Homo sapiens: one gene and its partner. Each later gene encodes a partner of the first gene's protein in a complex. Each region holds a gene or a part of one and is shown on either strand. Other genes may lie near its edges.

Region 1 (9,251 bases):
CCCGGAAGATTCAGGGCAGACAGACCCTGATAATGAGCCTGGCAGGGAAGGGCAACCAACATCTTGTAACTTGCTTTCCCCACCCTGTTTCTGGGGGCAGAGCCAATTGCCCAATTTCTACCCTAATCCAAAGTCCCTGGTGTGGGTGGGGTTAAACGTGCTGGTGCATCCTAGGTCATCCAAGAGTGAGCGCCAAGTCCTGAGAAGGGGCACAGAACTCCCTGGAGGGTGGAGATGGAGCACCTGCCCCCCATGGCAGGGTACACTCTCCCCACAGCCTTCCTCCCCACCATCCCGTGGGGACTCTCGGGATTTAAGCACTCGTCTCTCTGGGAGGCCCAGACCCCACTCCATTTATAGGCACATCTCCTTCATTTCCTAGGTCACTGCCCCTTTGTTTACAGCTCCTGCCTCCTCCCTTGACCACAGCCTGGTTTACAAATTCCATCAGCTCCCAGCCCCACCTGCCAAAGTCCCAGGTTTACAAGCCACGCTTACTTGCTGTGTCTGCGTGGAATTCTCTCCTCTGTCCCCTCCAGTCTCCTCATTGGAGTGACCTGAAGGTGTGGCTTCCTCCACTTTTTCTCAGTATTACTTTGCCTTAGTTTTCCCCAAGAGGGAAGGCTGGAACTCTTAACTCTGTACCCCTTGATAGTTATTTAATTCTGTTTCTCCTAGTGGTTCACAATTGAACTGAATTGAGATGGTGTCGGGTGGCTAAGGAGACACCTCACCTCTCCTTCCCCATTGTGCCGCCTTTATCAATTGCCTGTTTTGTTTTGTTTGTTTTTTAACTTTCCATAATAAAATGGAGTTCTCTTCAACTCGTCTGCTTCTCCTTCTTTGGGAAAAAAAAAGGGTATGTGAGGGGAGGCTCTGGTGGCTGGGGGAGAGGAAAATGATGGGGGATGAACCAGGAACTCGGCACTGACATGTCAAAAGGGGTCTGGGAAGCTGCACGTGGGTTTCACGCAGGACAAGCAGGTGACATGAGAAAGGGCAGTTGAAGTGTCCACTAGACTGGAAGTGCCATGAGGGCTGACTACATCAGCTGGATTCACTGCAATATCCTGTACCTGTCAACTAGTAGACACGGAATTATTTCTAGAATGAATGACAACAAATGAATGAATAGAAGAAAAGGGTTAAAATATTACAGAGGACACTTTGAGTTGAAGGGTTCTAGTATTCAGAAGCCTGCTGCCATGAAGGCAGCTAGGTAGTGTATGACACAACCCATGTGGCTAATCCAGGGATACTTACTTAAAGAGCTGGGGCTACGAATACTAAATCTGAAATTGCTGCAAAATGAAGTAAGTATGTACAAGAGTCAGTTTCCTGGAAAAGGTTCCCCTCTGATAGACAATGGATTTTATATCGTTAAAGGCCTAAAGGCCGGGCACGGTGGCTCACGCCTGTGATCCCAGCACTTTGGGAGGCCGAGGCAGGCGGATCATAAGGTCAGGAGATTGAGACCATCCTGGCTAACACGGTGAAACCCCGTCTCTACTAAAAATACAAAAAATTAGCGGGGCATAGTGGTGGGCACCTGTAGTCCCAGCTACTCGGGAGGCTGAGGCAGGAGAATGGCATGAACCCGGGAGGTGGAGCTTGCAGTGAGCTGAGATTGCGCCATTACACTCCAGCCTGGGCAGCAGAGTGAGACTCCATCTCAAAAAAAAAAAAAAAGGTTTAAAAACCATCTTGATAGTGCATGGCTTTGGTGCCCATGTAGTTGATATTTGGAATTTTCCCATTTCAAAGAATATCTTATACAAATGTGGAACATCAATATTTTACTCATCAGGAAAATTTGTTTGTTTGTTGTTAGCTCTCCAGGCTAACAAAGATATGGTTGAATAGTTATAGTCCTTCTACCACTACAAGTTGCTCCTCTCAGACTGGTCAGAGGAGGCCCCACACCTTTACTATAAAACAAAATATATGAGACAAATTGAACTTAAGCATACGCCAAAGGTTTTCAATTTACTAGCAAGAGAACAAGCCAGGTGTCAAAAGACTCAGCCAGTTCAGAGAAGGTCTGGGTAGGGAAGGAAACAGAATGATTATATTAGTAGCCTGTTAGGTAAAGGTCTTAAAAAGTTTCCAGTTGTGACCCAGGAAAACAGAGTTAGGAAGCTCCGAGGTGCCAGGGGTGCTCACAGTCCATCTCAGAAACAGAAAACAATGCATTCAAGAGGTCAGGCCAGGTGTGGTGGCTCATGCCTGTAATCCTAACACTTTGGGATGCCAAGGCGGGTGGACTGCCTCATCTGAGGAGTTTGAGACCAGCCTGGGCAACATGATGAAACCCCGTCTCTACTAAAATACAAAAAATTAGCTGGACGTGGTGGCACGCACCTGTAGTCCCGCCTACTCAGGAGGCTGAGGCAGGAGAATTGCTTGAACCCAGGAGGTGGAGGCTGCAGTGAGCCAAGATCACGCCACTGCATTCCAGCCTGGGCGACAGAGTGAGACTCCGAGACTCCCTTTCCAAAAAAAAAAAAAAAAAAGTCAGTGATGTAGATCCACTTGTGGCTATTAATAAGAACAATGTTTCATTTCCTAACAGTAGTGCCTGGTAACTGCAATTAATCACAAAAGTATGATGCAGGATCAAACAAATCAGACAGCAGAGCATCGAGTAACAAATTCAGCTTTTTGTTTTGTTTGTTTTTTTTTTTTGAGCATAGTCTTGGTCTGTTGCCTAGGTTGGAGTGCCTGACCTCGGCTCACTGCAACCTCTGGCTCCTGGGCTCAAGAGATTCTCCTGTCTCAGGCCCAGTGCGGTGGCTCACGCCTGTAATCCCAGCACTTTGGGAGGCCGAGACGGGCGGATCATGAGGTCAGGAGTTTGAGACCAGCCTGACCAACATGGTAAAACCCCATCTGTATTAAAAATACAAAAACTAGCTGGGCGTGATGGCATGTGCTTGTCACACTTGTAATTCCAGCTACTCAGGAGGCTGAGGCAGGAGAATCACTTGAACCTGGGAGGCGGAAGTTGCAGTGAGCCGAGATCGTGCCATTGCACTCCAGTCTGGGCAACAGAGCGAGACTCTGTCTCCAAAAAAAAAAAAAAAAATTCTCCTGTCTCAGTCTCCAGAGTAGCTGGGACTACAGGTGCACACCTCCACACCTGGCTAATTTTTTGTAGAGATGGTGGGGTCTCACCCTGTTGCCCAGGCTGGTCTCAAACCCCTGGTCTCAAGATATCCTCCTGCCTCAGCCTCCCAAAGTGCTGGGATTACAGCAAGAGCCACTGCACCTGGCCTTGCTTACTTTTAAATAAGCAGCCACCAGTGATTTTCTCAAGCTGTTAAGCAAAAATGCAGAACACAGTTTGCCTGTTCCTTAGTTTGGAGATTTTGTCTTTAACAACTTTCCCCAGTTCCCCAGTTTCTTCCTGCCTAGAGGTCTTCCCTTATACCTGACCTGTCTTCACTCCTGCTGCAGGCAAACCAGTCCTAGCAACGGTCACTTTTTTGTTTGTTTGAGACAGAGACTTCCTCTGTTGCTCAGGCTGGAGTGCCGTGGTGGGATCTCGGCTCACTGCAAACTCTGCTTCCCATGTTCAAATGATTCTCCTGCCTCAGCCTCCCGAGTGGCTGGGACTACAGGCGCACACCACCACGCCAGGCTAATTTTTATATTTTTAGTAGAGACAGGGTTTCGCCATCTTGGCCAGGCTGGTCTCGAACTCCTGACCTCAGATAATCCGCCCGCCTTGGCCTCCCAAAGTGCTGGGATTACAGGCATGAGCCACCGCGCCCGGCCAACAATGCTAATATGTTTTATGAGCATGGACCCGATCTTCCAATCTGAAATAGAATTTCATTCCTCCCTTACTTTGTATAGTTTTTGGCTCTATAAAATTTCCATACTTTCTTTATTATGTATCCTGTCCCTCCCCCACCGCAAAATGTAAATTTGGTAAGGAACTTTTGATTTGTCCTCTGCTATATCCCAGGGACGGAAAGCAATGAGCACACATTAGGCATCCATTAAATTAATTTCACTTGTTGAATGAATGCGTGAGCGAAGCACTCACAGACTGACCATCAGGGGGCGTCAGAGAAACTGGACAGAGGCGAAATGAAGAAAAAAGAATTACCCCGAGTTTTCAGGTATGGTTCCGCGAGGTTTGAACTCGCTCGGCCACCGTAGTGCTTAGAGGCCGAAAAAGTACAGCCCCTTCCGGGCTCCGCGGTACGGGAAGACAGCTTTGGGATGTCGGAAGATCCTAGAGGTCCCAAGGTAGCTGACTTGCGAAGCTGAGGCTCCAGCCGAGGGCTCCAGGCCTCTGACCGGCCCAGCAGTGAGCGCGGCTGCCCGACGCTTCAGGGCCGGGAGCAGGGAGCGTGAGTCGCCATGGCGACGCCGGCGGGTCTGGAGCGCTGGGTTCAGGACGAGCTGCACTCGGTGTTGGGGCTGAGCGAGCGGCACGTCGCCCAGTTTCTGATCGGTACCGCACAGCGCTGCACCTCTGCCGAGGAGTTCGTGCAGCGCCTACGAGACACTGATACCTTGGATCTCAGTGGGCCGGCCCGGGACTTCGCCCTGAGACTCTGGAACAAGGTGTCGGCAGGGGTGGGGAGGGGCCCTGTGATTTGTCCCGGTGAGGCTGGCCTAACGGTCCATCGAGAAGTTAAGAAAGCTCAGTTCACAAGCACTTATTCTTTGTCCGTTGTCGCGTAGGTACTGTGCTAGCTGCTGGACGCCCAGCTCAGTGGAGAAGATTGAGGAGGGCTTAGGTGTGTCGGGTTAAGCGCAATAGAACGGTGTTTCTCGAACTCTTAACATGCATCCAAGGTTCTTGTTAAAATGCAGATTGCGATTCAGTAGGGATCTTAGTTTCTGCATTTCTTTCTTTCTTTTTTTTTTTTTTGAGAGACACAGTCTCGCTCGCCCCGTCGCCCAGGCTGGAGTGCGGTCGTAAGATCACGGCTCACTACAGCGTCGACCTCCCTGGTTGAAGCGACCCTCCCACCTCATCTTCCCCGGTAGCTGGGACTACGGGCGCGCGCCACCACCCCCGGCTAATATCTTTTATTTTTATTTTTATTTTTAGAGATGAGGCCTTGGTGTGTTGCGCAGGCTGGTCTCTAACTCCTCAGCTCAAGCAATCCTCTCTCAGCCCCCTCAGAGTGCTGAGATTACAGGCGTGAGCCACCATGCCCGGCCCCCCTCATCTTCTGAACTTCCTTTCAGTCGTTTAATTAACAGAGGGGGCCGGGTGCAGTGGCTCACACCTGTAATCCCAGCACCCCGGGAGGCTGAGGCAGGAGGATTACTTGAGCCCAGGAGTTCGAGACCAGCCTGGGCAACATGGCGAAACCTTCGTCCTACAAAAAAATTAAAAATTAGTTGAGCGTGGTAGTGTGCACCTGTGTTTCTAGCTACTTAGGAGCCTGAGGTGGGAGGATCCCTTGAGCCCAAGAGGGACAGAGTGAAACCCTGTCTGTAAAAAAAAATAAAAAACCCCATTCAGGATGATGAAGATGGGGTGAAGCCATGAGGAAGAAAGAGAATGAATGCTGGTTAGCTGGTTTAAAACTAAGTAATTGTGCCCGGGTGTGGTGGCTCATGCCTGTAATCCCAGCACTTTGGGAGGCTGAGGTGAGTGGATCATGAGGTCAGGAGTTTGAGACCAGCCTGGCCAACATGGTGAAACCTCATCTCTACTAAAAATACAAAAATAGTCGGGCGTGGTGGCATGTGCCTGTAATCTCAGCTACTTGGGAGGCTGAGGCAGGAGAATTGCTTGAACCTGGGAGGCGGAGGTTGAAGTGAGCCGAGATCACGCCATTGCCTGACAGTGGGGCCGGGCCGCGGGGGCAGGAAAGACTAAGTAATTGCTTAAATTAGGAACAGAGCTAAGTGGGAGGGCAGAGATCAGGAGTTGCTCAGACCTCCTTATCTTCCCCTCTACTGACAGGTACCACGAAAGGCAGTGGTAGAAAAGCCAGCTCGGGCAGCAGAGCGAGAGGCCCGGGCCCTGCTGGAGAAGAACCGATCTTATAGGTTACTGGAAGACAGTGAAGAGAGCAGTGAGGAGACTGTGAGTAGGGCTGGAAGCAGCCTCCAGAAGAAACGTAAAAAGCGGAAACACCTCAGGAAGAAGCGTGAGGAAGAAGAGGAGGAAGAGGCTTCTGAGAAAGGGAAGAAGAAAACAGGGTAAGTCAGAAGCAGGGTGAGAGAGGATGGGGCAGGCTGAAGTGTTCTCTATGCCCTTATTTAATCCCCTGGATGGGCTGCAGGGGGAGTAAACAGCAGACAGAGAAGCCAGAGTCGGAAGATGAGTGGGAACGGACAGAGCGTGAACGCCTTCAGGACCTGGAGGAGCGTGATGCCTTTGCTGAGCGGGTTCGACAGCGGGACAAGGATCGGACTCGAAATGTCCTGGAACGGTCAGACAAGAAGGTGAATAGGAGCAGCATGTTCTGTAAATCCCCAAGATCCCAGGGTGAAATCTGAGGTTGGCTGTGAGTGCAGAGATAGTGATCTCTGGGAAGACAAGGGGCTGTCTCTAGTGAGATGTTCACCTCTGTGGTGAGAGAAGCCCTGTGCATCCTGTGGCTAAGACAACTGTCTGCTGTACCTGCAATCAGAGAGATTCCTCACTGAGAGGGGACATTTTTTGTGTTAGGGCGCATCTGAATGATCCTTGTGATTCTAGAGGGGAGCAGCTGTCAGTGTGGGGGCTCTTTGGCCTCACACCCCTCCATTCTTGTTTTTTCTTCTAGGCTTATGAAGAGGCTCAGAAGCGCCTCAAGATGGCCGAGGAAGACCGGAAGGCCATGGTGAGTCCCAGGGCCTAGGGAGCCAAGATCAGAAGACAAAAGGAAAGACTTTCTGATAGAGTGTATAGGGAGAGAGGATACAGAGGAAGCACAGTGTGGATGCTGATGGGGTGGTCAGGTTTCTAGAAGAGGGGCTTGGTTGTTAGGAGCCAGCTGAGGATAGACTTATGTTGTTGAGGGAAGGATCCTTCTTAAGTTGTAGGGGGAAGGAGGCTACCCATAAGTCCTCCTTGACTCTTAACTTTAGGATCAAATATACTCTATTAGTGAATGAAATTGTGAGCTTTCCCTATTCCTGAGTCCTAATGAGATATGAGGCAGCTGGAATGTTGTCAAGAAGGTTGCTGGAGGGCAAGGGCAGGGCAGCAGTCCCACTGTACAGGGATGTGCTGACCATTCAGCTTAGGCACACCATCTCCAAATACCTTCCCACCACCTAATTCCTGCACCCCTTATGTGGCTTTGTGATCTCCCTGTGTCTTCTCACTGGACAGGGACAGAGCCCTTGTAATTCATAAACTGGACTTTTTATGGTGTGAAACTAGGTAGGGTAAGCTGTTTTCCAAAGGCCTGGTCTTGTCAAGTAAAGTCACACTTAGATTCCCCAATACCCCAATAGAATTTTGAGACTCTTGAAGTTCCTTTTTTTTTTTTTTTTTTTTTTTAAACCTTTTTTCTTTTTTTTGAAACGGGGTCTTGCCCTGTCACCGAGGCTGGAGTGCAATGATGCGATCTCGGCTCACTGCAACCTCCGCCTCCTGAGTAGCTGGGATTACAGGCGCACACCACCACGCCTGGCTAATTTTTTGTACCTTTAGTAGAGACGGGGTTTCACCATGTTGGCCAGGGTGGTCTCGAACCCCTGACCTTGTGATCCACCTGCTTTGGCCTCCCAGAGAGCTGGAATTACAGGCGTGAGCCACCATGCCCAGCCTTCTTTTTATTTGTTTTGTTTTATTTTTTATTTTTATTTATTTATTTTTGAGATGGAGTCTCACTCTGTTGCCAGGCTGGAGTGTGGTGGTGCGATCTCAGCTCACTACAACCTGTGCCTCCCTGGTGGAGGAATCAAGCGATTCTCCTGCCTCAGCCTCCTGAGTAGCTGGGACTACAGGCCTGCAGTACCACACTCGGCTAATTTTTTGTATTTTTAGTAGAGGAGATTTCATCATGTTGGCCAGGATGGTCTTGATCTCTTGACCTTGTGATCTGCCCGCCTTGGCCTCCCAAAGTGTTGGGATTATAGGCATGAGCCACTACGCCTGGCCGTTTTTACTTTTTAAAATTCATTTATTTATTTTTTTGAAACAGAGTTTTGCACTTGTTGCTCAGGCTGAAGTGCAGTGGCGTGATCTTGGCTCACTGCAACTTCCACCTCCCGAGTTCAAGCGATTCTCCTGCCTCAGCCTCCAGAGTAGCTGGGATTACAGGCATGAGCCACCTCGCCTGGCTAATTTTGTATTTTTAGTAGAGATGGGGTTTCTCCATGTTGGTCAGGCTGGTCTTGAACTCCTGACCTCAGGTGATCCACCTGCCTCGGCCTCCCAAAGTGCTGGGATTATAGGCGTGAGTCACCACGTGCCCGGCCAACTTTTGGAGTTCTAAGAATGGCCTACTGGTTCCCAGGTCTCTCCTGACCAATTTATCTCATATCTCTTCCTGAAATTGACTGTGGTTAGGCTTCTGGGACATCTCAGTGCAGTTGTGGTGGTAGTGGTGTTACTGTTTTGGCCTGAATTTAATTTTTCGGGTTTTTTTTGAGACAGAATCTCATTCTGTCGCCCAGGCTGGAGTGCAGTGGCATGATCTCGGCTCACTGCAACCTCCGCCTCCCGGGTTCAAGTGATTCTCCTGCCTCAACCTCCCGAGCAGCTGGGACTACAGACATGCACTAGCATGCCTGGCTGATTTTTGTATGTTTAGTAGAGATAGGGTTTCACCATGTTGGCCAGTCTGATCTCAAACTCCTGACCTTTGGCGATCCACCCCCCTCGGTCTCCCAAAATGTTAAGATTACAGGCGTGAGCCACTGTGCCCAGCTGTAATTTTTCTTTTTCGATTACAAAAATATTTAAGCACATAGGGAAGTTGAAAGAATAGAACAAAGAACACTCATAGACACTATTCAGATTGAAAAATGGTTAATACTATGGGTAGTATTTGCATTGTAATTGTAAATGTGGTATGTTTTTTCTTTTCAGACCATTTAAAAGAGTCTTAGACATCATGGCGTTTTATCTCTAAGTACATCAGTGTGTACCTGCTAAGGATAAAGATATTGTCCTCTAAAATCAGAATGCTCTTGTCACAGTCAGGAAGTTGAACAGTAATTCTTATGTATCGACTAAGATCTCTCTACAATAAAAGATACCCTCATTACCCTCAAAATAACTTTAATGACTGCTTTTTCCTAACAAGAATGCAGTCAAGGTTCATGCATTGCATTTG
Region 2 (8,339 bases), on another chromosome or scaffold:
TCAACACTTCTACAGAAGGAAACACGTTTTGTTTCTCGTGCTGGGAAACAAGGCGGAGGTAACATCTCAACCATCTACACAAGGGGCACATTCATCTGTGCATGCACACACTCACTGTTACCAACAAACCCGCCTGTGTGTCCCCCGCACACGTTGTGTGCTCTCTGCATGGATGTCTTTCTCCTTCCACTCAGACTATTCACATTACCTAGCCTTCTCTGAATTTATATTATTTGTTTGTCAATGCAGGTTGTCCTCCAACCTAGTCTGTGAGCTGTTTTCAGAGGCAAGGAGCATATCTCAGTCTTATTTATGTTGTCCATGGTGGGACAGGGAAGCATTTTATCAATCAATATTATTTCACTGAATTACTTCACAAGTAACAGAAGAGGATTCTGACCTGTTTGAAATGGAACACTTTAGAGCAAACATACCTTTTTGTGAGGAATTAGTTCCAAAGAGGCTTGATACACCTGTCTTGTCCTCTCAGGATCCTGTATTAGGATAAGAAATTTTCACAAAATATTGAAGTCTGCTGCTAACACTCATTTTACTAGTTACTAATTTTACTGATATTGGTAAAAATGTACACCCCCAAAACAGCATGTTTCACAAGTTGTTACTTGCAAACCCTGATTTATGATCTAAAGTATGAACGGCCATGAAACTTCAGTTTAAGAATCACCAACAAGATAGCCACCAAACTTCTAAGCCCTTCTTTGTAGAAAGCCGTTTTGCCTGATGGCAGAAAGAAACAAAGATGTTTCATAGTCTCAGATCAAACCCAGAAGGTTAATACAAATGATTTCTGAAAATGCCACTTGATTTTTGCTAAAAGCAAAAATGCATAATCTAGCCAGAATTACTCCTATTAATGAGCAAATCCAGGAAACTATATTTCACTAAATTAAGGGCTGGTTCACTGTTCTCTTTCAAGCTCCAAGTGATATCTTGTTGTGCCTCAAGTAAAAATCAAACCAAAGTTAAAAAAGCCCCTCACGTGTGGCCACAACAAGCACAGAGGGTTTAAAATGTTGCAGAGCGAATATATAACTGTATGGATGAACAGAAGCCTATAAAAATTTAAAACTAAATTTCCTTCTTTCAAGAATTACAAACATCCACAATAGGTGAGCTGTGAATACAGAAGACAGGAAACCATTATCAGCTGACACATAATTCTGTTTTTTCACCTTTGCCTCCAATTCTTCATAGAGTGCATAGTTGATCCAAAGATAAATGTAGCGCTTCCAGTGCCTCTTCTCCTGAATGGGTGGGACATTGGCAATGGCCCTTTCATAGACTTCTCTCACGGCTTCAGCTTCTGCGTCACTTTCTACCAAGCGCAAGTAATCAAACCATGCATCATAATTGTGTGGATTCGCCTAGAAAGACAACCAGTTTAATAAATAAAAAACAAAACCAAGAGCTGCACTTGCCAGGTTAAGCAAGCTGAAAAAAGGCATCAGGCTGACTTTCTATATTTTAGCACCTTTTCTTCTAAATGTTACATGTTCTTTCATTTTAAAAACACCATCCCTGAGACTGCATAAATAGAAAAGAAACAGGAATACAGAGGATAGATTACTGGCCAGGTGTCCCACAGCAAGGACTCCTTCATCTATAGCCATCACTCTCACGACAGTCAATAATTAGATGCCTATTCTTGCCAATGCATTTGCTTAAATATGTGACTATGTATCATTATGTCTGTAACAACAGAATCGTATCATGCTCACAATTGTTAAACTTGCCTTTCCAATTAATAGCAATTCATCTTTAACATATCTTGCTAACCTACCACCACATTTAATAACAGACTTAGTCCTTTGCTTGGAGGTATCTTAATTAACTTGACTAAGGAAGAGTATTTTTAAATACACAACAGAATACTGAAGGAAAATGACACTCTCTTTGAATTGAAATCAAAATAGTACATTACAGAAAAAGAGATGCCGATGGAACCCTGTCTAGCATACATCTTTTGTTCAGGCAGTTAAGCTCAAAGGTGATGTGCAAAACAGGTTTTTGGACCAATCTCTGACTCTTCCACCTTCTTCCAACAATGAGCTCGAATGGATTCCACATTTCTTTTGCTCCAGTTCTACATACAGTCAACAATCAACAAAACGACTTACAACATGTAAGTGGCAGAGCAAATCCAAGTGTTGTTTGCTTGCCTTTTCTATCAGCCTTGTTTATTCCTACTTGTCTGAAATAGCTGCCAATTGGATCACGGGCACATCATCACGAGAGTAATCACTAGTAGTGCTACTTGCTATTATTCATTTTAGTGTTGCTAGTATTGATGAGCACATCTTGGGTTATCTGCAGAGTTGACCATCCACACCAGTGCTCACCTTCACTTCTTCTTCGTACTGGAATCTCCGTTTGCTCACAATGATATCTTCAATACCCCGCCTATCACCAAACTTCTTCTCAAAGATGGTATAATTTTTAAAGAGTTCTTGGGCATCTTGTTTTGAAATTCTGTCCAGGGCATACTTGTAAATCACTCGTACCCTTTCAAACTAAATGCAGACAGGATGATTACCTTCTATAACACAATATTCTCATGCCAGTCACAACTAGGAGAGTAAATATAACAAAATATTACTTATAAGTTAGATTTTGAGGCCTCATAATATCCAGAGTAAGATGCTTTTCTCCCTCTTGTTGAAGGTTATCTCTGTCAGGATGGACCGGTACTCTGCTTTGAGCTCCATATTTAATACTGTCTACCTAACACTGCCAACTGGATGTCTACTGCACATCTCAAACAGGTCCAAAACTGAGCTTCTGTTTCCTCCCCACTCAAACTGGGACTCTCCCCATCTTCCCAATTTTAGTAGGCAAGGCCTAACCTACAGTCACTTGCTCAAGCCAAAACCTTCAGGTGATCCTCAATTCCTCTTTTTTCCTCATACTCCATATTCACTCTTGCAACATGCCCTACCATTTCAATCTCTTCCACACAGCCATTTGCTTCTCCCCAGCCCCCAGCCATCAAACTCCACTGTTCACCTGGCCCACTTCAAAAGTCTCCCCACTGGTCTCCCCTGGTTCCACTTTTGCCATCTACCCTCATACATTCTCCATGAATTAGCCAGAGGCTCTCCTTAAAATATAAATCATATCCAATCACTGTCCCGCTTAAAACCTTTCAATGCTTCCCACTGGCCCGAACAGAATCTGAACTCCCTAGCATGGTCCGTGCAAGACCTTATATAGGTTGAGTATCTCTTGTCTGAAGCATTTGGTATCAGAAGTGTTTTGGATTTGGGATGTTTCCCCAGTTTGGGAATATTTGCATTATACTTACTGGTTCAGCATCCCTAATCCAAAAACCCGAAGTCTGAAATGTTCCAATGAACATTTCCTTCGAGTGTCATGTCAGCACTCAACAAGTTTCACATTTTGAGTTTTGGATTTTCAGACTGGGAATGCTCAAACCTGTATTTGGATGGATCTCAATTCTGTATTATTTGAACTCCCTTTTTTTTTAAGAAATGGGGTCCTGCTCTGTCACCCAGGCTAGAGTGCAATGGCACGAACATAGCTCATTGTAGTCTCAAACTCCTAGGCTCAAGTGATACTCCTGCCTCAGCTTCCCAAGTAGCTGGGACTGTAGGTGTGCACCACTATGCCCACTCAATTTTTTTTTTTAGAGACAGGGTCTCACTATGTTGCCCAGGCTGGTCTCAAACTCCTGGCCTCAAGTGATCCTTCTGCCTCATCTTCTCAATATTTGAGCTATTTTCATAGGTACAAGGGAAAAAAAGAACTCTCTTATTTGTAGGGCAATCTCTGTTTCCATTCTAAATGTTTTCTGTTCTAGGGCTTTAAGCTTTTTGTTTCCCATATTTATTATCGGTTAAGTCCTTTACTTAGGATGCCAAAAGACTAGTTCTCAGTTTACGGGCATTCAGACTAAAAGGCTTAATTTTCAAACAAAGCACAATAAAATTAAGACAGTTATAATACAATCTATAATCAGCTCCCATCTGTAGCTTAGTCACATATATATGCTGTTCTCTGTGAGAAGCTGTGTTTTTGTATTTTGAAAACATCTTTCCAGGGATATGTCAGTAAGAAAAAATGGAAATGAACTCACCATGCACAAAATGTAATCTTTGCTAAGCTGTTTTACAGTATAATGAAGTTAGGTATACTTACCTCTTTCTGATTTTCTTCAAACTTGGCAAAGGCAACATAAAGGTGCTCATCCATATGTTCATCTCCAAAGAATTCCACAGCTCTCTCATACACTTTCCGTGCATGGGCAAAATAAGCATGTTTTTCTTCAAAGCGGGCATACTTGATCCAGTTCTTAACATCAGGGTGCACGAGGACAAGTGCAAGGGAATTAAGGAAATCCCAGGCAAAACAGCATGGCTTAAAAAAATAGTAAGTAAGTAAACACCAAAACCATACCAAAGCCTGGAAACTCCAAAAATTCAAACTACAACTCTAGGGGAACAAAACACATACAAAAGTGTAGAATTAAACAGTGGCTTCTGTGAGAGCAGGGCCACGCCTGTTCATCTCTATTTTCCTCCAGTGCTTAGTTAAGATTTTAGTGGTGGGTATAAACTCGAGTTGGAAGCAAAGAAAAATCTCAACCCAGGTTACCAACCATGTGATCTTGGATAAGTCACTGAACTTAGACGTCTAAGTCTCAGCTGTTTCATTTGTAAACAGGGAAAAATAATGCCAGCCTCACTGGATTACTGCCAGCTTTAAATGAGAAAATGTATGTAAAGCCCTTAGCACAGTTTCTAGCCAAAAGAACATGGCACCGTAAGCGGTCAATAATGGTCTGGTCATTAAATAGCACCAATTATATTAAAATATGAATACTTGAACTAATAATTAAGAAAAAAACATGCTATAAAAAGAAAACTGTTAACTAGAGTCAAAGCAGAAAGTTTTGAATTGTCATTTTAATCTATCTTCCTTGAATAAATCATTAATTTCCAAAGTAGTAATATATTCCAATATGGCAAAGAAGAGCATCAGTTCTGAAGCTGCTCTACTAGGTTCACATTCTATTTCCATCAGCACCTGTGAGAACCCAGTCAAGCTACTTAATCTCTCATGCCTCAGCTCCCTCATCTGTAGGACAGAGAAGTTCCTACACTGCAAGGATGTTATGAGGATTAAACAACAATATCTGTAAAGTACTTAGAATACTGCCTGGCACGTAGCAAGTGCTATAAAAGCTTTCGTCAAACTAATAATATTAAAATTAGTAGACATAATTAAGATCTTAACATTGTCACCTCAACAGAGAAGAGTAAAAAAATAAAAAGATCTTAATACTGCATAATAAAGTTGACTCTCATTATTTCTGGTAGTTATGTTCTATTTAGTCAATGCGAACACTTAATTATTGAGTACTGAACCACTGCTCCTAGGAGAAACGTGTATATATACAATCTCACATTCATCATCATCTTAAATCCTAAAAAGAACTCATCCTGGCAGATTCTATCTTCATTATTTTGTAAGAAAAGTGGTTCAGAAATGTTAAGTGACTGGACTGAGGCTGCCCCACTGACAGGGATTCAAACTCCCCGACTGGCCCCAGAGCCACAGCTCCTTGCACTACATGGCACTGGCCCTTCCTGTCTCCAAGCTCTAGGCATGGTTATATGAGGTTAAGACCAGAAGGCAAGCCTCACCTTGTTGGACTTCATGCTCTGTGCATGTCCACAAATGACTGTGAAAGTGCCACAATTACTGATTTTGGGGGTTACAAATAAATTTTAGCAAATACGTGATTTTGCAAACATGGAATCTGCAAATAGTGAGGAATGACTGTACTTCAGTTTCTAAAAGTGCTTTCATGTGTATCATTTAATCTTCGCAACAGCCCAACAAAGGTGTTTTTATTCTTGTTTTTAAGAAGAGGACACCAACTCTCAAAGGAGTTAAATGACTCTCTGGAGCCACACAGCTAGTAAACAGTAAACCTTGGATGAACTCCAGTAAGGTAGTAATGACCAACACAAACCTTAGAAAAACAGGACTGGCAATGGCAGCCAGGACCTTAGTACAGTTAGTCCTCCAGCCATGGGTTCCATATCTGTGGATTCAACCAACCTGAGATAAAGTATTCGTGAGAAAAAAGTGCTTCTGTATTGAACATGTCGTTTTTTTGCTTATTATTCCTTAAAATATACAGAATAACAATTATTTATATAACATTTACATTGCATTAGGTATAAGTAATCTAGAGATTATTTGAATTATATGGGAGGCTATGCATAGGTTACATGCAAATACTACATCATTTTATATGAGGGACTTAAGCATCACCGATTTTGGTATCCCCTTGAGTTCCTGGAAACAATCCCCCAGGAATATCATTTTCCACAAGGAAACATTAGCTTTTAGCATTACAATAAAATAAACCCAAACTCTCACTAGAAAAGACTAGTTACCCAGAATACAAATTTTCATTCTGACCAATCTCTTTCCCTACAAAACATAGGGAAGCTGATAAACTGGCATTCTTGACTTTGAGCCTGACATTAATGACTGTGTGTCCTGATCATGAGACATCTCTACAGGAGCAGCAGCAGCATCCAGGACAATCATGGCACCATACAGATCTCGTCCAAAGGATATATCGCTCATAAATGGTGCGGGCCCGATCCACCTCTTTGTATCTCAGCTCAAAGTTGATGTAGGAGTGCCAGGCTTGCTCCTCAGGCTGCCACTCCATCCAGCGCTCAAACACCTGCCGGGCACCGGCAACGTTTCCCAACATTTCCTCCATGTACGTGTACTTGTACCTGTAACAAAATCACCCGAAAATATCTGCTGTGGTTTAGTTCTTCCATTGTTGAATGGGAAGAAGATTGAAGATTTTACCTTTCTTAAAGGTTAAATCAAACATGTTTTGTCATTTGTATGTAAATCTGAAAAAGGATGAACCATTGGAAAAAAAGATTTTTTTTTCTTAAAAGTTGCCTAGTTCAACAAGAAGCTTATGAATAAAAGATTGCAATCAAAATTTTAGTTTTGATTACATAGCTATAGAACATTACGATTATGACTTAATAGACTATGGGACATAACAGCATTTATGTCTGAAGAAAAAGTAGGATATCAAATTAAACTATCATCATGTAAATAAAATAAATACAGAAGATGTGGAACTTTGCTAGTCTATAAAAGGCTGTTTTGTTAGATCAGAAACTTACCAGAACTGATTAACTCGAGGCAGCGTTGTTATGGCCCGGTCCCAGATATTTCGAGCATGGTTGACTTGGCGATTCTTCATTTCCATTTCTGCGTATTTCAGCCAGAGTGTAATATTTCGGTAGTCTACATCTAAAGCACGCTCGTATATGGATCGAGCCCTTAAGAAGCAAGATTTGCAGGGCATCAAAAATAGAGCATTCAACACATGTAGCAGTTATTTCAAACTATCTGGAATGCACTGATGTTTTATTAGGTGTCTACCATGAGCCAAGTTCTGGGCATAAAAAAATGAAAAGATATAATGCTCTCAAGTACCTTACAAAGTCTTATAAAAAGACATGCATGCAATTATAATGCAATGTGATTTATGTTATAGTCAAGATCTGCACGGGAAACAGAGAGGAAGAAATGAAAATGTTTGGTGGAAAAGGCTAAGTAGTAGGTAATTGTAGAAATGAGAACTTGAGGAACGTTCCGATTTACCAGGAAACTAAGTTTGGTGAGGAGGGGGTGCTCATTCCAGGCAAGGAGAACAGTCAAGCCTCACGATAAGGAGACATGATATATTCAGGGAGTGGCACATACACAGGCACAGTGGGGGAAGGAGGTATGCGGGGAGAATGCAGAAAGCTAGACCACAGGAAGGGCCAGATTGCAATTTTTATTTTTTTTGGCCATTGGTTTTATTTTTTTTGGCCATTGTTTAGCTGAAATTTGTAAAAATCTCAATATATACAAAGCAAATGAAATTGTGCTTCTTTAGCTACAACTGACAAGATCTATCTCTAAAGCCTCTTCTGCCACCCTCCCCAGGACTATTCTACCCCAGTACTCCTGAGGCCCTCAAGGGAACCCTAGGGTTCCATGGAACCAAAGTTGAAAATTTCTACCCGAGGCACAATCTTTTACCTGTGCTTTAACTTTTTCTTCTTTTCTTTTTGGTATCTGTTAATCTATGAATCATTATATACAAAACTACACTCTCAGTAATTTTACCTTTGAATCTCCTTTAGGCTTTCTTCCCATTGTGCGTATTTTATCCAGTTACTAATCACAGTCCTGTTTTTTCTTATATTATCTTCAAAAGTCTGGAAGAAGGCAAAAAGGGTCAAGTCAAAAGACAAATG

What was found. Proteins that work in one complex are often made in the same cells at the same time.
Region 2: DHX16 (region 1) and CRNKL1 share a complex: the UniProt entries of both Homo sapiens proteins name them as parts of the minor spliceosome.

Annotation. Positions count from the first base shown.
Region 1 is NC_000006.12:30,667,962-30,677,212, reverse strand, and holds the start of DHX16 (pre-mRNA-splicing factor ATP-dependent RNA helicase DHX16), read left to right. Parts: upstream 1-4,206; 5' UTR 4,207-4,230; coding exon of another isoform or gene 4,231-4,257; 5' UTR 4,258-4,371; coding exon 4,372-4,578; intron 4,579-5,938; coding exon 5,939-6,177; intron 6,178-6,260; coding exon 6,261-6,423; intron 6,424-6,746; coding exon 6,747-6,803; intron 6,804-9,251. UniProt on the Homo sapiens protein: Required for pre-mRNA splicing as a component of the spliceosome. Contributes to pre-mRNA splicing after spliceosome formation and prior to the first transesterification reaction.
Region 2 is NC_000020.11:20,041,132-20,049,470, forward strand, and holds part of CRNKL1 (crooked neck-like protein 1), read right to left. Parts: intron 8,301-8,339; coding exon 8,209-8,300; intron 7,371-8,208; coding exon 7,212-7,370; intron 6,801-7,211; coding exon 6,634-6,800; intron 6,632-6,633; exon of another isoform or gene 6,017-6,631; intron 4,396-6,016; exon of another isoform or gene 4,356-4,395; coding exon 4,177-4,355; intron 2,532-4,176; coding exon 2,361-2,531; intron 1,386-2,360; coding exon 1,194-1,385; intron 495-1,193; coding exon 435-494; intron 1-434. UniProt on the Homo sapiens protein: Involved in pre-mRNA splicing process. As a component of the minor spliceosome, involved in the splicing of U12-type introns in pre-mRNAs.